2 separate regions of the Homo sapiens genome follow, and region 1 is linked to region 2. Evidence: fine-mapped expression QTL. A gene starts in region 2. The other region holds a variant in brackets. All regions are shown on one strand. Distances are from middle to middle. Region 1 overlaps ATP5MF-PTCD1 (ATP5MF-PTCD1 readthrough). Region 2 holds the start of ARPC1A (actin related protein 2/3 complex subunit 1A).

What was found. PIP is the estimated chance that this variant, and not a neighbour inherited with it, causes the effect. A credible set is the group of variants that fine-mapping cannot tell apart.
Region 1: its variant is the best candidate, but not a certain one, in a credible set for the expression of ARPC1A in lung (TOPMed, PIP 0.60).

Annotation. Positions count from the first base shown.
Region 1 is chr7:99,419,943-99,430,739 of GRCh38, reverse strand. It overlaps ATP5MF-PTCD1 (ATP5MF-PTCD1 readthrough), which reads left to right. Exons shown (of 9, transcript NM_001198879.2): 5 at 934-1,152; 6 at 1,536-1,637; 7 at 5,124-5,945; 8 at 6,783-6,965; 9 at 10,591-10,797. The coding sequence ends at 10,773. PTCD1 (pentatricopeptide repeat domain 1) reads left to right here. Exons shown (of 8, transcript NM_015545.4): 4 at 934-1,152; 5 at 1,536-1,637; 6 at 5,124-5,945; 7 at 6,783-6,965; 8 at 10,591-10,797. The coding sequence ends at 10,773. Among named protein-coding and RNA genes, the nearest start is that of PTCD1, 13 kb to the left of the region's middle. RefSeq lists enhancers at 290-886, 7,243-7,744. The variant A/G (reference allele first, on the strand shown) is at 6,488.
Region 2 is chr7:99,319,930-99,330,726 of GRCh38, reverse strand. It overlaps ARPC1A (actin related protein 2/3 complex subunit 1A), which reads right to left and starts at 4,829. Exons shown (of 10, transcript NM_006409.4): 1 at 4,723-4,829. It overlaps LOC105375421 (a long non-coding RNA gene), which reads left to right and starts at 4,919. Exons shown (of 4, transcript XR_927798.3): 1 at 4,919-5,213. RefSeq lists a silencer at 4,549-4,728 and an enhancer at 4,704-5,263.

The sequences.
Region 1 (10,797 bases), 100 kb before region 2:
TAAGCTCAGTAAGGATAGGCTGTGCCCGCTCTGCTAACCCCAGGGCTGCTGCTGGGCAGGTAGTGAGTTGTCAGTGCACCTCTGTGGAGTGCAGCAATACACGCAGAGCTTACATCATCCTCAAAGTAGGGACTGCCCTCTTTGCTTTTCAGATAAGGAAACTGAGGCACAGAGAGATGAAGGGACATGTCCAAGGCCACCCCACTTGAATGCACCGGGGCTGGGATTTGAGCCCCAGATGGCCTGACTCTAGCAGGGTTCTTTCTGCCGCTGAGCTGCCTATCGCCTGCCTTTGTCCAGATGGCCCTTCTCTGGCCAATAGCGAGTGCTAGGCTTCACCACGGATTGTCAACCCTGAGCACATGCCTTAGTCCCCTGGAGGCTCAGTAAGCTGAGTGTCACTCAGCTCCGGGGCTTGTGACTTACCAGATCAGGTGGCCCTGAGAATGTGCATTGTGCCACTGGTTCGGGGCCACCCCTAGAGCACTGCAGTGCATCCTCCCACTTGCCACAGGCATGCCTGGTTTCAAGGTGATGGTGTCATCCCCATTTTCGCGAGGAAGTGCTAACTTGCCCGGGAGCCCTCAGGTAGTAAGCACTACAGGCCCTTTCCCCTTGACGGGGTGGCCTGAAGGTGGGGACATCAGGAAGACCTTGCTGCCAGGACCCCAGGCCTGGAGTGGGCTGACAAGTGCCCAGGGCAGGGTAGCTCCTGTTTGGTACATCTGGGTGTGTGGGCTCAGTTTTCAGAGTCCCTTCAATGTGTCTGAGTTTGGAGAGCTGGGCTCTGATGTGTCCATGGCTCTGCCTTAGAGCCTGGCCTGGTGGATGCAGTGACGGGGTCCTCTCCAGCCTCAGCCTCCTCTGGGGCAGCTGCTCACCTGTGCGTCCAGCTGATCCCGGGCCACCACTGAGCTTCTTCCATCTCCACAGATGAAAAAGCGGGACCTGGAGCCCTCGGACGCCACCTACACGGCCCTGTTCAACGTCTGTGCCGAGTCCCCCTGGAAGGACTCAGCTCTACAGAGCGCCCTGAAGCTCCGGCAGCAGCTGCAGGCCAAAAACTTCGAGCTCAACTTGAAAACATACCACGCGCTGCTGAAGATGGCTGCCAAGTGCGCAGACCTTAGGATGTGCCTCGATGTGTTCAAGGTGGGGCTTCCCCTGCCGTCCTGCTCCCCTTCATGGGGCTGGTCCCACGTGTCAGGGGCAGGGCTGTGGTGTCTGTCTCTCCTCATGTAGGAAGGCTTAGGGAGGATGAGACAGCCGGTATTGGGCCCTGGGGTTCACAGATGGATCTGATGAGACCTTACTGGAGATTGTGTATGCCACCGTGTGCTGTGTCCTGCTTTGTGCACTCGAGGGAAGGCTTCCTAGAGACAGGGTCTTGCTATGTTGCCCAGGCTGGTCACAAAACTCCTGGCCTCAAGTGATCATCCTGCCTTGGCCTCCCAATGTGCCAGGATTACAGACATGAGCTACCATGCCCAGCCTGCTGCAGGTTCTCAGTGGGACGTCTTTGTTCCCTCCCCCAGGAAATCATCCACAAAGGGCACGTGGTCACAGAGGAGACCTTCAGTTTCCTGCTCATGGGCTGCATCCAAGACAAGAAGACAGGCTTCCGGTACGCCCTCCAGGTATGTCCCTCCCACCCCACCTTCCTGCCCTGCTTCCCCGGTGCCAGAGGTGCAAAATGGTGATCCTGTGAGCACCCACGATGGCCCTGTGCTGAGTATTTTTATATCTGTGCTCTTTTCTGAAAACCCAGCAGCCACTGTAGCCTCCATTCTACAGATGGCAGGGAGAGGAGGCCCTTGGAGATGGAATGAGGGTGGCCCCCGCCCCTCCCACCCTGCTTTGCAGTCGGCTTAGCCCCTCTAAACTCACCTTCCTTGAAAGCCTGCCACACACTCACCTGGGGACTTGTTCAACCCTCCCACACCCCCATTAGCACTTCTGCAGGTGCAACCCAGGAGTCATTCATTCATTCATTCATTCATTTATTTTGAGATGGAGTCTCACTCTTGCCCAGGCTGGAGTGAGCGATCTTGGCTCACTGCAACCTCCGCCTCCCAGGTTCACGCGATACTCCTGCCTCAGCCTCCCGAGTAGTTGAGATTACAGGCGCCCGCCACCACGCCCAGCTAATTTTGTATTTTTAGTAGAGACGGGGTTTCACCATGTTGACCAGGCTGGTCTTGAACTCCTGGCCTCATGTGATCTGCCCGCCTGGGCCTCCCAAAGTGCTGGGATTACAGGTGTGAACCACAGCTCCCCGCTGGAGAGCTTTTTTTTTCTTTTTCTTTTTAATGTTTTTAATTTTTTTTTTTTTTTTTTGAGATGGAGTCTTGCTCTGTCGCCCAGGCTGGAGTACAGTGGCATGATCTCGGCTCACTGCAAGCTCCACCTCCTGGGTTCACACCATTCTCCCGTCTCAGCCTCCTGAGTAGCTGGGACTATAGGCGCCCACCACCATGCCCAGCTAATTTTGTTTTTGTATTTTTAGTAGAGACAGAGTTTCACCATGTTAGCCTGGATGGTCTCGCTCTCCTACCTCGTGATCCGGCGCCTTGCTCTCCCAAAATGCTAGTATTACAGGCGTGAGCCACCGCGCCCGGCCAATTTTTTTTTTTTTTTTATTGATCATTCTTGGGTGTTTCTTGCAGAGGGAGATTTGGCAGGGTCATAGGACAATAGTGGAGGGAAGGTCAGCAGATAAACAAGTGAACAAAGGTCTCTGGTTTTCCTAGGCAGACGACCCTGCGGCCTTCTGCAGTGTTTGTGCCCCTGGGTACTTGAGATTAGGGAGTGGTGATGACTCTTAAGGAGCATGCTGCCTTCAAGCATCTGTTTAACAAAGCACATCTTGCACCACCCTTAATCCATTTAACCCTGAGTGGACACAGCACATGTTTCAGAGAGCACAGGGTTGGGGGTAAGGTCACAGATCAACAGGATCCCAAGGCAGAAGAATTTTTCTTAGTACAGAACAAAATGAAAAGTCTCCCATGTCTACTTCTTTCTACACAGACACGGCAACCATCCGATTTCTCAATCTTTTCCCCACCTTTCCCCCCTTTCTATTCCACAAAACCGCCACTGTCATCATGGCCCGTTCTCAATGAGCCGCTGGGCACACCTCCCAGACGGGGTGGTGGCCGGGCAGAGGGGCTCCTCACTTCCCAGCAGGGGCGGCCGGGCAGAGGCGCCGCTCACCTCCCGGACGGGGCGGCTGGCTGGGCGGGGGGCTGACCCCCCCCACCTCCCTCCCGGACGGGGCGGCTGGCCTGGCAGAGGGGCTCCTCACTTCCCAGTAGGGGCGGCCGGGCAGAGGCGCCCCTCACCTCCCGGACGGGGCGGCTGGCCGGGCGGGGGGCTGACCCCCCACCTCCCTCCCGGACGGGGCGGCTGGCCGGGCGGGGGGCTGACCCCCCCACCTCCCTCCTGGACGGGGTGCTAGCCGGGCAGAGGGGCTCCTCACTTCCCAGTAGGGGCAGCCGGGCAGAGGTGCCCCTCACCTCCCGGACGGGGCGGCTGGCCGGGCAGGGGGCTGACCACCCCCACCTCCCTCCCGGACGGGGCGGCTGGCCGGGTGGGGGGCTGACCCCCACCTCCCTCCCGGACGGGGCGGCTGGCCTGGCGGGGGCTGACCCCCACCTCCCTCCCGGACGGGGTGGCTGCCGGGCGGAGACGCTCCTCACTTCCCAGACAGGGTGACTCCCGGGCGGAGGGGCTCCTCACTTCTCAGACGGGGCGGCTGCCAGGCGGAGGGGCTCCTCACTTCTCAGATGGGGCGGTTGCCAGGCAGAGGGTCTCCTCATTTCTCAGACGGGGCGGCCGGGCAGAGACGCTCCTCACCTCCCAGACGGGGTCGCGGCCGGGCAGAGGCGCTCCTCACATCCCAGACGGGGCGGCGGGGCAGAGGCGCTCCCCACATCTCAGACGATGGGCGGCCGGGCAGAGATGCTCCTCACTTCCTAGATGGGATGGCGGCCGGGAAGAGGCGCTCCTCACTTCCTAGATGGGATGGCGGCTGGGCAGAGACGCTCCTCACTTTCCAGACTGGGCAGCCAGGCAGAGGGGCTCCTCACATCCCAGACGATGGGCGGCCAGGCAGAGACGCTCCTCACTTCCCAGACGGGGTGGCGGCCGTCTTGGCACTTTGGGAGGCCAAGGCAGGCGGCTGGGAGGTGGAGGTTGTAGCGAGCCGAGATCACGCCACTGCACTCCAGCCTGGGCACCATTGAGCACTGAGTGAACGAGACTCCGTCTGCAATCCCGGCACCTCGGGAGGCCGAGGTTGGTGGATCACTCGCGGTTAGGAGCTGGAGACCAGCCTGGCCAACACAGCGAAACCCCGTCTCCACCAAAATAATACAAAAACCAGTCAGGCGTGGTGGCGCGCGCCTGCAATCGCAGGTACTCGGCAGGCTGAGGCAGGAGAATCAGGCAGGGAGGTTGCAGTGAGCCGAGATGGCAGCAGTTACAGTCCAGCTTCAGCTGGGCATCAGAGGGAGACTGTGGAAAGAGGGAGAGGGAGACCGTGGGGAGAGGGAGAGGGAGACCGTGGGGAGAGGGAGAGGGAGAGGGAGAGGGAGACCATGGGGAGAGGGAGGGGGAGAGGGAGAGGGAGAGGGAGAGGCCCGGCCAATTTTTTAAATGTTTTACAGTTGTTTTGAGACACTCTCGCTCTGTCACCCAGGCTGGAGTGCTGTGGCATGATCACGGCTCACTGCAACCTCGATCTCTGGGTTCAAGTGATTCTCCCACTTCAGCCTCCTGAGTAGCTGGGACTGTGGGCATGCAATACCACACCCAATAATTTTTGTATTTTTAGTAGAGATGGGGTTTCACCATGTTGGTCGGGCTGGTCTCGAACTCCTGATCTCAAGGAGTCTGCCTGCCTTAGCTTCCTAAAGTGTTGGGATTACAGGCGTGAGCCACCGCGCCTGGCGTATTTTTTTGAGGCAGGGTCTTGCTATGTTGCCCGGTCTTGTCTCGAACTCCTGATCTCAAGGGATCCTCCCATCTAAAACTCCCAAGGTGCTGGGATTCCAGGCGTGAGCCCTGCGCCCAGCTGCTGAATGGGAGCACCCAGCTGACGTTTGTCTCTTCCGTGGCAGGTGTGGCGGCTGATGCTGAGTCTAGGGCTACAGCCGAGCCGGGACAGCTACAACCTGCTGTTGGTGGCAGCTCGGGACTGTGGCCTAGGGGACCCCCAGGTGGCCTCAGAGCTGCTTCTGAAGCCCAGGGAGGAGGCGACTGTGCTTCAGCCCCCAGTGAGCAGGCAGCGGCCAAGGAGGACAGCCCAGGCCAAGGCAGGCAACCTCATGTCAGCCATGCTGCATGTGGAGGCCCTGGAGAGGCAGCTGTTTCTGGAACCTTCTCAGGCACTTGGGCCTCCAGAGCCTCCGGAAGCCAGAGTGCCCGGCAAGGCCCAACCAGAGGTGGATACTAAGGCAGAGCCCAGCCACACAGCAGCCCTCACCGCAGTGGCCCTGAAGCCACCTCCCGTGGAGCTGGAAGTCAACCTCCTGACCCCCGGGGCCGTTCCCCCTACAGTGGTCTCCTTTGGAACGGTGACCACCCCAGCTGACCGGCTGGCCTTGATAGGGGGCCTGGAGGGCTTCCTGAGCAAGATGGCAGAGCACAGGCAGCAGCCCGACATCAGGACCCTCACGCTACTGGCCGAGGTGGTGGAGTCCGGGAGTCCTGCAGAGTCCTTGCTGCTGGCCCTCCTGGATGAGCACCAGGTAGAGGCCGACCTGACATTCTTTAACACGCTGGTGAGAAAGAAGAGCAAGCTGGGAGACCTGGAGGGGGCCAAGGCGCTGTTGCCGGTCCTGGCAAAGAGGGGCCTCGTCCCCAACCTGCAGACATTCTGCAACCTGGCCATCGGGTGCCACAGGCCGAAGGACGGTCTACAGCTTCTCACAGACATGAAGGTGAGTGGACTCGGGCCTGGGCAGGACACCCATGGTGCTCAGGAGCACTCTGCAGCTCAGGAGGAAAGTTTGAGGGGTCTGCAGACCCCCCACCTGGAGAGGATGAACTGTGCATGGGGCAAAGAGAGTGGGGTCAATGACCTTCTGGTCTTTGGTCCCATTTTGGGGGAAGCAGACCCCAGTGAGTGCTTCAGGGCTGGGCGTAGAGACACACGGATGTTCCCATCCGGAAGAAGGTGGCCGTGGGTTGACACAGGGCTGGGCACAGGCCTCGGCCCCAACACTCTAGAGGTATGGCAGGGATTCTCAGAATTCCTGAGGGGCCGTGGGCAGTTTTCAAAGCCCCCGAGGTCTGTGCCTCCCACCTAACCCCCATTGGAAGTGCTGCGTGGATTTCATCCGACCACAGCAGAGGCTGCGTCCTGGGTTGTCGGTGTCCCCAGGTCCATCATCCTCTGGCTGTTTTCCTGGACCCTACCGGGCTCACCCAGCCAAGGCTTGCACTTTTCTAGGCCAACCACCACCTGGTGACCGTGCGTCAC[A/G]GGAAGCCCACCCCAGGGAGCAAGGAGGTGGTGTCTCCCACATCATTTTCTGCCTGAGTCAGTCGGTGTCTGAGAGCAGCACGAGCGTCCTTTTCCGCAGCTTCTTTAGGGCTGAGCAGAGGGGCTGGGCTTGGCTTTCCTGCTGGAGAGGGATATTCAGCACATTGTTGCTGCCAAGTTTGCCTTGCTGGCCCTGGCCGCTGGTCCCGGGAGCCAGCTTGATTGACAGAGGGTGGGAGCTGCTGGGTCCCAATGGCTGCCATCATCTTGATTCTACGATGTCCCTGTGTTCTAGAAGTCCCAGGTGACCCCCAACACTCACATCTACAGTGCCCTCATCAACGCGGCCATCAGGAAGCTGAACTACACCTATCTCATCAGCATCTTGAAGGACATGAAGCAGAACAGGGTCCCGGTGAACGAAGTGGTCATCCGCCAGCTGGAGTTTGCAGCCCAGTACCCTCCCACCTTTGACCGGGTGTGTGCCCCAAGCTCAAAAGCTCATCAGCTCCTTCACCATTGCTACCCCCTCCCCCCACCACCCAACCCCGGTTCTGGCCCTTGGGATTGTGTTGCCATGCTTGAAACTGTCCAGCAGCTTCCCTTAGGAGCAGTACCCAAGTCTGTAGACCACAGCCTGCGAGTCCCTGTCTGCGTGGCTCATCTCATGTCTCAGCCTTGCGTTTGCTTTCTCTGTCTGTCCCAGTGGCCTTCTGTCAGTTCGCAGAGGCCACCAACCTCTTGCCTGCTTCGGGATTGGTGTTCCCGCTGCCTCAGGTGGCACCCACTTTTCCTGGAGGTCTCTGCTTAAGTGGCCCTCAGACATGCCCAGCTGGCTGCCGCTCTGACCTGGGATGAAAGTCTCCCCTCCCCCTTCCCACTCTGTTCCTTTATGCCGTGTCCTACAGTCTTGGATCATGTGCTCATGGGCAGCCCTGGCCTTCCCTGTATCAGGCTTCTGGAGGCAGAGGCTGTCTGCTGTGCTCATCTGGGTCCCCAGCACCTGCACGTTGCTGGGTACTCCAAACAGGTTGTCGCTTGCTCAGGGACTGGGCAGGCAGTGAAGTGGTGTCATTGTCTGGGGTGAATACCTGAGATTTGTTGTGAGCCAAGATCGCGCCACTGCACTCCAGCCTGGGCGATAGATGGAGACTTGGTCTCAAAAAAAAAAAAAAGAGGTTAAGAGCTGAAGTTTAATAGGCGAAAGAAAGAAGAGCTCTCGCCCGGTGTGGTGGTGAAAAAAAAAAAAAGAGAAGAGCTCTCTCCTTGCAGAGAGAGGTGCCAGAGAAGTGGGTTGCCACTTCCATAGTGTAATGCAGAGGTTTTGTAGATGAGCTTGGGGAGGTGGTGTCTGATTTACAGAGGACGCAAAAGATTAGTTGGACCAGGTGTGCCATTTACATAGCATGTATAAAAGCTGGTGCCCCACCCTAACCTTTTATTATGCAGACAGGTGGCCATCGCCATGTTGCCTGGTTCTTTACTGTACACATGGCAACAAAGAAGGGAAGATGGGGCCCCCACGTTGAACATATCTGGCTCCCAGGTAGCCCTTTTCTGTTGGCACAGCCGCCAGCATTTACCCCTGCAAGCTTCCAGTTTGCTTATCTATGTCTGCAGCTCGATTTTTCAGGCTGCTCTTTGTTAGAAAAGAAATTATTTGGGGGCTGCTTTTTATTAAAAGGGAAATTTCGCCAAGGACTCTGTTGCCCTTATTATCTGCCTAAATAATTTCTTTCAACCTCCTGTATCAGCAGGAGCAGGGCAGAGTCATGGAATCTGCTTTGTCACGGCCACAGCCTCTCCCTGCTGTTCTGAGGCTATCAGGCTCTGGGGTTTGGCTTTTGGGTCCATCGAATCACACTCTGTGCTGAGCATCTCCGGAGCATCGAGAGCCACTATGGCTTGAAGCACAGCCCGGATGGGGCGGAAACAAGTAAATGGGCAGGGACACACACAGCTAGAGGGTGCGGGGTCAGGAACGCCGTGCAGGTGTCACGCCTGAATGCCATTTTGAGGGCTTCCTACAAATAGGTGGGACAGCAATGGAAATTGTGTCTGGCTGAAGGCATAGCTGGGCATTTTTGAACTGTGTCTGTGCTTTGAACTGTTGGTTGCAAGCCTTTTCTCATTGATTCCAGGGTTTTTTATATATTCTGGGTACTGGTTTTTTGTTGATCACATGTTGTGCATATCTTCCTAGTGGATTGTCTCTTCCCTCTGGCGTAGGGCTCACTAGGGGTTCAACTCGACAGTCACAAGACTATCATAGACCTAAAGCATATCATATTTAAGTCACAGACAGATGTCCCTGACTTAAAGATGATTCTACACAGGATTTTTCAACTTTGCAATGGTTTTATCAGGATGTAACTCTGTAAGGATCGACTTTGTGCGGGGTTAGTTTCTACTGAATGTATATCACTTTTGCATAATTATAAAGTCAGGACCCTCTGCTGTGTTGCCAGCAATAGATGCATTTTCCTTTTGTTTTTTATGAGATGGAGTCTCACTCTGTCACCCAGGCTGGAGTGCAGTGATGCGATCTGGCCTCACTGCAACCTCTGCCGCCCAGGTTCAAGTGATTTTCCTGCCTCAGCCTCCCGAGTTGCTGGGATTACAGGAGCCTGCCACCACACCAGGCTAATTTTTGTGGTTTTTTTTTTTTTTTTAGTAGAGACGGGGTTTCACCATCTTGGCCAGGCTGGTCTTGAACTCCCGACCTCGTGATCCACCCACCCCAGCCTCCCAAAGTGCTGGGATTATAGTTGTGAGCCCCCATGCCGTGCCGCATTTTCTTTTTTCTTTTTTTTTTTTTTTTTTAAAGAGACGGGAATCACTCTGTTGCCCAGGCTGGAGTGCAGTGGCACGATTATGGCTCACTGTAGCCTTGACCTCCCAGGCTTAAGAAGTCCTCCCACCTTAGCCACCTGAGGAGCTGGGACTACAGGCATGTACCACTGTACCCAGCTAATCTTTTAGATAGGGTTTCACTATATTGCCCAAACTGGTCTGGAACTCCTGAGCTCATGTAATCCGCCTGCCTCGGCTTCCCAAAGCACTGGGATTATAGGAGTGAGCCAGCACACACAGCCAGATTGATTTTTGATTTACGATGGGTTTTTGGGGGGCGGAACCCTGCTGTCAGGAGCATCTGTACTCATATTCCCTCATGATGGTGGACTTGTTTATATTCGTGATTCTGTTGAGTTTTGCTTTCTGTGCTTTCAGGCTCTATCCGGCACCTTAAGGTTTAGAATTGTCCAGTCTTTTGAGTCAAACCTTTTTTTGTTTTTGTTTTTTTTTGAGATGGAGTCTTGCTCTGTCGCCCAGGCTGGAGTGCAATGGCGTGATCTCAGCTCACTGCAACCTCTGCCTCCCGGGTTCAAGCCATTCTCCTGCCTTAACCTCCCAGGTAGCTGGGGCTACAGGCATGCACCGCCACATCCAGTATTTTTAGTAGAGATGGAGTTTCACCATGCTGGCCAGGCTGGTCTCGAACTCCTGACCTCAAGTGATCTGCCCACCTCGGCCTCTCAAAGTGCTGGGATTACAGACGTGAGCCACCGCACCCGGCCAAACCTTTTGTCATTGTGTGGTAGTAGCTGTATGTTGGATAGCACTTTTTGGCTTTTTTGGTATATTCCCCTACCAGCTCTCAGTTTGTGTCTGGTGTGTCTTTGCTTTTTTCCCCATATCTCATGGAGCCTATCTTGGCAGTGTTGAGATAATGGTCAGAGGGAGGTGGCTTTGATGGGGAGGGGCTCGGCAGGCTGTGGAGGCAGAGCTGGTGGGACCCAGTGATTCTGGCTTGGGGGCCTGGGGTGGCAACTGCGGATGGAGGAGCACAGTGGTGCCTATTTGGGAAGAACGCCATTGGGCAGATGGCTCTGGGCCTGCCCCAGGGTACCCAGCGGGGACCTGTTTCTCTGAAGTAAGCTAGTCCCATAGTGCGTGTTCACAGCTTTTCTGCCCTGTCCTCTGCAGCCACCTGGAAGGGAAAATGGCAGCCACCAGCTTCCCTGAGGCCTGAGCCAGCTGCCGAGGTTTGGGATTAGCTGTAGGTAACAGGAGTGATTCTAGCCTCACTTTTCTAATTCTAGTACCAAGGGAAGAACACCTACCTGGAGAAGATTGACGGCTTCCGAGCCTATTACAAGCAGTGGCTGACAGTGATGCCCGCAGAGGAAACCCCGCACCCCTGGCAGAAGTTCCGGACCAAGCCCCAGGGGGACCAGGACACCGGCAAGGAGGCTGATGACGGATGTGCCCTTGGGGGCAGGTGATGGGAGCACAGCTGGAACAATGTG
Region 2 (10,797 bases):
AATGGAAGGGCCACTAGAAGGTTGTAAAGTGAACAATGAAAGTTCAGCTGACAAAGCAGAAATCAGTCTCAGAAAGCAGAAGCAGCACCTCTGCTAATTGTAAAGGAACCCAGGCCAGGCATGGTGGCTCAAGCCTGTAATCCCAGCACTTTGGGAGGCCGAGGTGGGCGGATCACCTGAGGTCGGGAGTTCGAGACCAGCCTGGCCAACATGGCGAAACCCTATCTCTACTAAAAATACAAAAATCAGACGGGCATGGTGGCAGGCACCTGTAATTCCAGCTACTCAGGAGGCTGAGGCACAAGAATCTCTTGAACATGGGAGGCGGAGGTTGCAGTGAGCCAAGATGGTGCCACTGCACTGCAGCCTAGGTGACAGAGTGAGACTCTGTATCAAAACAAAACAAACAAACAAACAAAAAGGGGGGGGGAACCCAAAGGTAAGTGCAACTTTAAATAAAAAACATCTGATACCTTGAACTGGCAGAGAAATGCTAGCATTTCATATTCTATTCTAAGAGTGAAGATAGTTAAGTCATTACTTTTTTCTTTTATACAGTCGAGAAAGCAAACTACAACTAACAAAGAAAAAGCTTAGGAATTGGCAATTTAAAAAAATTTTAAATGCATTCAAATGAGAATGTTTAATTTGTTTTTTTTTTTTACAAGAACTTCCAGATGCTCACTGCATGCTTCTCTCTTTATCTCTGATATCAGATGCTCACTCCAAATTGTTCCATCACAACAGATTTTAGTAACAGCTACTCAAAATAACATGCTGTTATAACTCCTTAATTAAAAGCGCTTTAGTTCAAAAGCCACATTTGATAAGCTTATTTGTTAACTAAAAATAAAATCGGTCTGCAAATCAGAAATTTGATGTGAATATCTACGTGCCATAAAAGTACATGGTTCATGTCCAGTTGAAAAGTACAGCTGCAGACAAAAGGCTTTCTCATGTTCAACTCAGTGTTTTATAAGCAATGTAGCAAAGACTTCAAAAGAGGTGGCCATTTACACAACAGTGTAATTACTTCTAAAATTGCATTTCTAATTTTGCCATATCATTCAAGTTCCATATTTGGACATACACTTAAGACCTGTACTTCTTTTATAATCAGGTGGCTATTTTAAGTCTGCAGGCCAAGACAACACTCATGTTTGTCAAATTTAGAATGCACCTAGCAAACACCACTTGCATTCATGAAACCCAGTGAATGCAGAAGAAATTCCTAATAGCTTGAATTATGTACCAAGAAAGGGTACCTTCTGTCATAGGGTGATAATTATAATTTCTAAACTATGGTTAATGTTTAAGTGAAATCTGAAAAGCTTTGTCTTAATAGAGCTAGAGAGGGAGAAAAGGGGACAAATAAAAATGCCAGGAACTCCTCATCCCTTTTCTTTATTTTCTTTTTTTTTTTTTTGAGACGGAGTCTCGCTCTGTCGCCCAGGCTGGAGTACAGTGGCACGATCTCGGCTCACTGCAAACTCTGCCTCCCGGGTTCACGCCATTCTCCTGCCTCAGCCTCCCGAGTAGCTGGGACTACAGGGGCCCGCCACCACACCCGGCCAATTTTTTTGTATTTTTAGTAGAGATGGGGTTTCACCGTGTTAGCCAGGATGGTCTCGATATCCTGACCTCGTGATCCGCCTGCCTCGGCCTCCCAAAGTGCTGGGATTACAGGCGTGAGCCACCGCGCCCTGCCCCTCATCCCTTTTCTTTTCCTCCCTCCCTCCCCCCTCATCCCTTTTCTCTCTCTCTGAGTTTTTTTCTCAGACAAGGTCTTGCTCTGTCACCCAGGCTGGACTGCAGTGGTGTGATCTCAGTTCACTGCAACCTCGGCTTCCCAGGGTCAAGCCATCCTCCCACTTTAGCCTCCTGAGTAGCTGGGACCACAGGCATGCATCACTATGCCCTGCTAATTTTTTAGTTTTTTGTAAAGACAGGGGTCTCCCTATGTTGTCCAGGCTGGTCTCAAACTCCTGGGCTCAAGTGATCTGCCCACTTCAGCCTCCCAAAGTGTTAAGATTGCAAGCATGAGCCACCATGCCCGGCCCCCACCCCTTTTCTTTATCTATCACTGAGTACAGAGTCATTCTGATGTATGGCTAGCCATGGGCTCTGAAGCCGAGGCTGGGTTTGAACCCTGGCTTTTGACACACACTAGCTATGAAACCCTGGGCAAGTCACTTGATATCTCTAAATCTCATTTTTTTCTTCTGTAAAGTGGATATACCACTGAGATCACAAGGAGAATTAAATGAGACATGTGAAAGCAAGTAGTACAGAGCCTAGCCTGAAATACATGCCAGCAGGTTCCCTTTCTCCCTTTGACCCAAGGCTTTTCTATTTTTTAAATGGAGTTTTGCTCTTGTTGCCTAGGCTGGAGTGAAATGGTGTGATCTCAGCTCACCGCAACCTCCGTCTCCCGGGTTCAAGCGATTCTCCAGCCTCAGCCTCCTGAGTAGCTGGGATTACAGGCACGTGCCACCATGCCTGGCTAATTTTGTATTTTTAGTAGAGACGGGGTTTCTCCATGTTGGTCAGGCTGGTCTCAAACTCCTGACCTTGGTGATCCACCCGCCTCAGCCTCTCAAAGTGTTGGGATTACAGGCGTGAGCCACTGCACCTGGCCAACTCAAGGCTTTTAAACCAACCATAGAACCCACCAGTTAGTTTCCTCTGAGCTTGGAAACGTTGACATATGCTATAAATTCTTGGCCCTACTCCTTTGGAGCTTGAAAATGCCCACAAAAGTGGGCATTTCTGTCCCCTGTTTAGGGTCAGTTTTCAAGACCGTGATTCACCTAGTTCCTAATCACTCTCATTAGCCAATCTAGCAACATCAAGTACTCCAACAAGGTCACCACACCCTCCTCAACATTCAGACAGGCTCCAGTCCAGGCACCAGCCTCACCAGCAGACCATTTTAAACTTCTTTATATAGGATTTGTTTCAGCATTGGATGAGACAACTAGATCAAAGTATCACCACTCCGCGTCCAAAATAGGAGTTTTCCGAAATGGTCCCTTCCTTTAACTGTGATTAACAGATGAACTCCAGAAGATCTCTGAATACTTTGTGGGAGAAAATAGCCATATAAGCTGGGTGTGGTGTCTCACACCCAAAATCCCAGCACTTTGGGAGGTCGAGGTGGGAGGATAGCTTGAGCTTAGGAGCTCCAGACCAGCTTGGGCCACATATGGAGACCCTGTCTTTACAAAAAATACAAAAAAAAAAAAAAAATTAGCCAGGCGCAGTGGCTCATGCCTGTAGTCACAGCTACTCGGGAGGCTGAGGCAGGAGAATCGCTTGAACCCAGGAGGTGGAGGTTGCAGTGAGCCAAGATCACACCACTGCACTCCAGTCTGGGTGACAGAGTGAGACTCTATCTCCAAAAATAAGTAAATAAAAATAAATGAAAATTAGCCCAGTGTGGTGGCACACGCCTGTAGTCCCAGCTACTCAGGAGGCTGAGGTGGGAGGATCTGTTAAGCCCAGGAGGTCGAGGCTGCAGGAAAAAAAAAAAAAAGGAAGACAACAACCACAGTTACCCACTCCCTAACAGGACAAAAACACCTTCCTGACTGATGCCCCTCCTCTGTTTTTAGATACCTGAAAACCCAGGCCCTATGTGAAACCACAAGACTAGATAAAATTGAGGAGAGAGGGCAGAACTAAGATAATCTCGGCAATTTAAGCTACGAGTTGACATAGACAGAAGGTTCCAAAGCTGCAGGAGAACAGATGGCTTTATAATCAAAGATTCTAAGCTATAACTGATTAAGTGCCTATCATGTTCCCAGCAGTGTTGTAAATACCGGGATGGGGCTAGAAACATAAATAAGGCTGACACCATTCTGGTCTTCAAGTCTGGAGGGTTGGTGTTTGGGGAGAGTGGAGGAGATAGAAAAGGAAAGGAAGACGGATATGCATAGAATGCCCAGAAGCAGTAATAATAGCTAATATTTATTGATCACCTACTCTCGGCCAGGAACTATTCTAAGCAATTTATGCAAATAAGCTCACTTGATTCTTAGCAAAACGGTAAGAATCTTTTTATTGCAGATGAGGAAACAGGCGCAGAGAAGCATCTTCCCAGGATCACTCAACAAAGTGGTGGTGCCAGGACTGGCATAAAAGATTCCACTAAATGAATAAGAGCGCCGAGAAGGGTGCAATTTTGACTTGGGGGAAGGCGGTACTCATGCAGGGAAATCTTAAAAGAACTCGGGAGAAGGTTTTTCTCGAGATCGAGAAGGTTCCCCATTAACCGAAGGATTGAGGGCTGCCCTAGAGAGCAGGCAAACATCCTATGGGCGCCTACTGTATGCAGGGATCGACTCTAGACACTAAAGAGATGAATAGTCCCGCGGGTCGCTCGATTACGGGAGATCCTCCTACTTGACACAATTTTAGAGACGGTGACAAATGCCCCCAGCAGAGGTGCAAGTAGGACCCTGGGGGCGCAGAAGGGGCCGTTAATTCGGGCATCGGAGGCGGCTAGGAGCTCGAACATCCTGAGAAAAGCTGCAGGGGATCCACGGAGAAAGGGGATCCCCGCCCCCTCAGGAGGCCCCGGCAGGGAGACCCGGCCGCGCCTCAGCCTCGGGGCCCCGCGGCCTGAGCCCCCGTCTCACTGCCCCCGCGGCAAGTCCGGCGCCAGGCCTGGACAAGAGAGGCCGACAGGGTGAGACGCTCGCCCCTGCTGGCCGTTACCTGGGATCGGGGGAGTCCGGACGGGCTCGGAGCGGAGGATTCGCGGACTCTGGGCAGTCGACGCGAACAGGCTCCGTCGGGCGCGGGCGGAGGACGGAAGCCCAGAGGGAGCGGCTGACAGATCCCGGAAGTGGACACGGCGCCTGCGCGTTGCGACCGCGCGGACGGTCCGCGCATGCGCACAGCTCGGGCGCGCAGTCCGGGGTTAGGCAGGCTGCAGTGGAGGAGGGTACGCCGTTCCATTGGCGTGGTACTGTCGGCGGCCCTTCAGAGGAGATGCTGCCCCACGGAACGCCTGGCAAGTGCTGGCGAAGCGGCATGGGCGTCCCACTCCGTTCCTCAACCAATTTCCTCACAATCGCGAGCCGAAGTGTGGCGCTTTGGCAGTTTCGCAAGGTCTTTTGTCAGGAGATGAGTTACTGAGGATTGGGGGTCTTTGGAGCTCTTGGACCTGAAGAACGATTAAGTTTTTCTCCCTTCAGAGAGCCAAGGTCAGAGCCAGTCTACCTCAGCGCTGCTCCCTGCAGGGAGCCTCCGCCCCCGCCGTGCTCCCTCTGTGGAAAGCCCCTGAAGCCCCCCAGGAACTTTCTCGACCCTTCCTGGGACAGAATCCCCTGCTCCCAAGCAGTTCCCTGCTCCCAAGATGGCGCAGCAGGGATAAAAGGGTTGGGGGAACTTGGCAAGGCCCCCAATTCACAGAGGACAGAGCCTGCCCCGCAGATGCAGCCTCCAAGAAATGCCCTGATCCCCACCTGCAATCAGGCTGCTGCCCTTGAACCCTAGAAATTCTGGAGCATCCCCAGCCCCCACAGATGGGGCTAATCGAGAGCTTTTCTTTTTTCTTTTTTTTTAGACAGGTTCTCAACCTGTAGCCCAGGCTGGAGTGCAGTGGCGCGATCATAGCTAACTGCAGCCTGGAACCCCTGGGCTCAAGCGATCCTCCCGCCTCAGCCCCCCGTGGAGCTGGGACTACAAGTGCACACCACCACGCCTGGCTAATTTTTATTTTTTGGTAGAGACAGGGTCTTGCTGTGTTGCTTAGGCTGGTCTTGAACTCCTGGGCTCAAGCGATCGTCCCTCTTTGGCCTCTCAAAGCCCTCAGATTACAGGTGTGAGCCACTGTGCCTGGCTAATTTTTATATTTTTTGTAAAGATGAGGTTTTCCTATGTTGTCCAGGCTGGTCTTGAACCCCTGGGCTCAAGCAATCCTCTAGCCTCTGCTTCCCAAAGCGATGTGAGCTCCCCCCCGCCGCCGCCCAGCGCCATGCCAGGCCAACCAAGGGCTTGTCTCCTTCCCTTTGGTATTGTAAGGTGAGGTTTATGTAGGTATACTTGTCAAACTCTCAATTTCAGACCCGCTGTGATCTTTTTGAGACGGAGCCTTTCTCTGTCGCCCAAGCTGGAGTGCAGTGGCGCGATCTCGGCTCACTGTAACCTCCGCCTCCCGGGTTCAAGCGATTCTCCTGCCTCAGCCTCCCGAGTAGCTGGGACTACAGCTGCGCGCCACCATGCCCGGCTAATTTTTGTATTTTTAGTATAGACGGGGTTTTGCAATGTTGGCGACGCTGGTGTCGAACTCCTGACTTCAGGTGATCCCGCCTGCCTCAGCCTCCCAAAGTGCTAGGGTTACAGGCGTGAGCCACCATGCCCTGCCAGACCCGCTATGTTCTTTGGAGTTAGTGCAGAGTTCCCCAACTCCTTGGCTGCTGACGGGTGTTGGTCTGTTGCCTGTTAGGAACCCATTGGCACATGAGGTGAGCAGGGCGAGCCAACGAAGTGTCATCTGTATTTACAGCCGCTCCCCATCTCTGGCATTACGGCCTGAGCTCTGCCTCCTGTCCAATCAGTGGGGGCATTAGAGTCTCATAGGAAAGTGAACCCTATTGTGAACTGCATATGCGAGGGATCTAGGTTGCATGCTCATTATGAGAATCTAATGCCTGATGATCTAAAACCACCCCACCCCTCTCCCCTAGCCCCTGCCCCCTTTTCCGTGGAAAAATTGTCTTCCATGAAACCGGTCACTGCTGCCAAAAAGATTGGGGACCACTGAGTTAGTGAATCCAGCTGTTCATGGAACATCGCTTCACTGAAATTCTGATTTTAACTCTGACCTGTGGTTACAAAGTCTTTGGTCATAGGGTAATCGAGCAGATAGTGTAGAAAGATCATTGTAAATTCATTACCCCCTCCAAGAGACAGCTTGGGAAAGGGAGGACAGCAGGTGTGGAAAGCAGGGATTCCTTGTGTGTCTGCAAGTTACTTGAACCAATTCCCAAGTATGTAGAGGAGTTTATGAAGATCCCACCTCTTTACAAGGAACACTTACTGCTTTGATGGAATTTATAATCTGGGTAGATGAGAGTAACACATGCAAATTAATACCAGACTTTATGATAAGTGACAAGAAATGTTAGCCCCAGAAAAAAATAACAGATATTTACTATTATTAATCTCTGGTTCTGATTTGAAATAGTATTTTGCAATTTAGCCTAACCAAAGCTTACCATTTGATGCATTTCACTTTTTTTTTTTTTTTTTGAGATGGAGTCTCACTCTGTCACCCAGGCTGGAGTGCAATAGTGCGATCTTGGCTCACTGCAACCTCTGCCTCCCAGGTTCAAGCGATTCTCCTGCCTCAGGCTCCTGAGTAGCTGGGATTACAGGCACACGCCACCATGCACAGCTGATTTTTGTATTTTTAGTAGAGACAAGGTTTCACCATGTTGGTCAGGCTCGTCTCGAACTCCTGACCTCATGATCCTCCCGCCTCGGCCTCCCAAAGTGCTGGGATTACAGGCGTGAGCCACCACACCCGGCCCACTTCATATTTTATGAGTCATTCCAGATGGTAGAATCTTAGCTCTAAGCGGGGCTCTTCTGTAATTGAAGAAAAAGAAAAATTTTGACACTTGAGGAATTTTTTTGTTTTGTTTTGTTATGCGACAGTGTCTGGCTCTGTCACCGAGGCTGGAGTGCAGTGGCGTGATCTCAGCTCACTGCAACCTCCACCTCCCTGGTTCAACCGTTTCTCATGCCTCAGCCTCCTGAGTAGCTGGGATTACAGGCGCGTGCCACCACACCTAGCTAATTATTGTATTTTTAGTAAAGATGGGATTTTGCCATGTTGGCCAGGCTGGTTTTGAACTCTTGGCCTCAAGTGATCCACACACCTTGGCCTCCTAAAGTGCTGGGATTACAGGCATGAGCCACCAAGCCTGGCCTGAAACCTGAGGGTTTTGATACAAGGCAGGGAGGGTTGGGGGGCTGGCCACCTGCTCTGGCCTTACTGGTTATACCATCGTGCCCTGCTATAAAAGCCAACCATCAGGGTTCTAAGGAGGGTGAGTTACTTTTAATGTTTGTTTTTAAGGCATGTGTGATGTAGTATCCAAAATGCAGACTCAACCTTTTAAAAGATTAGTATCATGGGTGAGGGGCAGCTGTCTGGGCTGGTGGTACGTGGGTAAAAGGATTTACCAAGACAGTTGTAGATAAAGGCAGATTTGTTAGAGAAAGTAGGAAGGTACGAGAAGGCAACAGGCAGAATCAGCAGAAGAGCAGCCAACTGCAAAGAAAGGCTTGCTGGGGATTTTATGGAATAGTGTTTATGCTGTAATTGTTGGGCGCAGGAAGATTGTGAGTTATTTGCAGAGGAGGGCTGTGTGTCTGGACCATAAAGAATGGCAGACTTGTAGTTTACCTGCTTCTTTTTGCTTCCCCCTGCTCCCACCATCCTGACTCCTTTTCCCTAATTAGACTTAACAATTAGTGCCAGGGAAGGTGGTACTTAGAAGTGGGCAATGGAAGAGAGGGAGGGGTTGGACACTACCGTGGGCTGATTTTGTTTGCTTTGCTGATTGGATTGGAATTGGAATTGAGTTGAATTAGAATTTGGTCAAGATTCAAGGCATCAAATATTTAATAAATACTCACCAAGTGCCAACTATTGTGTTAATAAGAGTAGAGTAAGATCCTTCTGTTCTCAAGTAACTTAGAGATTAGGATATGACCAGTCCACAAAATATTTTATCTTATTTTTAGACCAGGGATGCTGCTAAAATAATTTTAAATAAAAGGAAATGCACAATACCTTGAATCTGGAAGGTCCTGGTTAACATTCGTTGAATGAAAGTGCAAATGAATGAAAGAAAACAATTTGGATGTCAAAGGACACAGAGGTTACTGCTAGTTGAGAATGGAAGGTGGGGCTTATATAGACACATCAGGAACATAATCCATCATAGTTTAGGAAGGTTACATGTTTGTAAAGGCGTAAGGATTTCCTTCTCAGGAGAGCTTGATTTAATAACTGGAATGTGGAGTTGGAGAGTAAGAAGATTGTTTCTTGCTTGTTGTGCCAACAGCTGAAATGGTGAACAATTACTGCAGATCTTCCAATAATGCCTGCCATCTAGTCACCAAAAAAACTGTTGGAAATACTGAATCAATGCCAATAAAAGCTATAAACAAACAAAAGGACAAAACTATTAATGCATATTGTGTGTTATTAGTTAACAATAATCCTTATGCTTTAGATATTGTCCTAATTGCTGGGTATGTTCCCAGTGAGGAAAACTTCCTATGGAAAGGATTTTGTAGAGTTCAATACAGGTGAACTGAAAAGTGCATGTGGATTTTTCCACTGCTCACTCAGTTCATTTCCATAGGACAGAGATGGGACCAGTCACGGGATGTCTAGGGGCACAGGGTAGTCTCAGGTGGTGTGTATAAATAGCATATTATCGCAAATACCATACTTGTAAGACAATCATACAAGCAGACTTGGGAATTCCCTGTGTTACTTACCTAATTTAATAAGTGAAATCTGTAACCCATGAACCTGTAAATCTCCTCAAGGCCAGAGCCACTTAGACATTTTGTTACCGACACATTTTTCCATGTTATGCAAGCTTAGATTATTTTAATAAAATCATTCTGGAGCCATCTAGCACCCTCATCCACCAGTCATTTCATTAGCATAGAGAGACACACTTATCACTCCAGAGATTGCAAAGGTCTTAAAAGCTCCTGTGTGAGGAACTGGGAGCTAAGACCAAATATTATAACAAAAGATGTTTCAGTTACTGATGGACAAGTACAAGGTGTGTGGGAAGGGACACAGAGCTTCCATATCCTCTGGGCACACCACCCTCCCAGCACCACCACGTGTTCTCTAACCCAGATGCTCTCCAAACCTCATCATTTAAGGTTTTTATGGATGTTCTATAATGTAGGCATGATTGATTAAATCACTGGCCATTGGTAATTGAAATAAATCTCCAGCTCCTCTCATCCCTGGAGGTGGAGGGGTGGGACTGAAAATTCCTACCCTCTAATCACAGAGTTGGTTCCTCTGGCAATTAGTTTCTTTCTGGAACCATCTAGCACCCTCATCCACCAGACATCTCATTAGCATACAAAAAGACACTTACCACTCCAGAGATTCCAAGGGGCTTAAAAGCTCCTACGTGAGGAACTGGGAGCTAAGACCAAATATTATAACAAAAGAGGTTAGGCTGGGCACGGTGGTTCACAGCCTGTAATCCAGGCACTTTGGGAGGCTGAGGTGGGTGGATCACCTGAGGTCAGGCATTCGAGACTAGCCTGGCTCACCCGGCAAAACCCTGTCTCTGCTAAAAATACAAAGATTAGCCTGGCGTGGTGGCAGGCACCTGTAATCCCAGCTACTCGGGAAGCTGAGGCAGGAGAATCGCTTGAACTGGAGATGCAGAGGTTGCAGTGAGCCGAGATCACCCCACTGCACTCCAGCCTGGGGGATACAATGAGACTGTCTCAAAAAAAAAAAAAAGATGTTCCTCTCACCCCTGTTATACAGGGTAGTATAACAATTTTAAAAGCTCTGTGTCAGAAACAAAATAGATATTTCTTTTTTTGTTTTTTGAGATGGAGTCTCGCTCTGTCGCCCAGGCTGGAGTGCAGTGGCGTGATCTCGGCTCATTGCAACGTCCGCCTCCCAGGTTCAAGCGATTCTCTTGCCTTAGCCTCCCGAGTAGGTGGGACTATAGGCATGTGTCATCATGCCCAGCTAATTTTTTGTATTTTTAGTAGAGA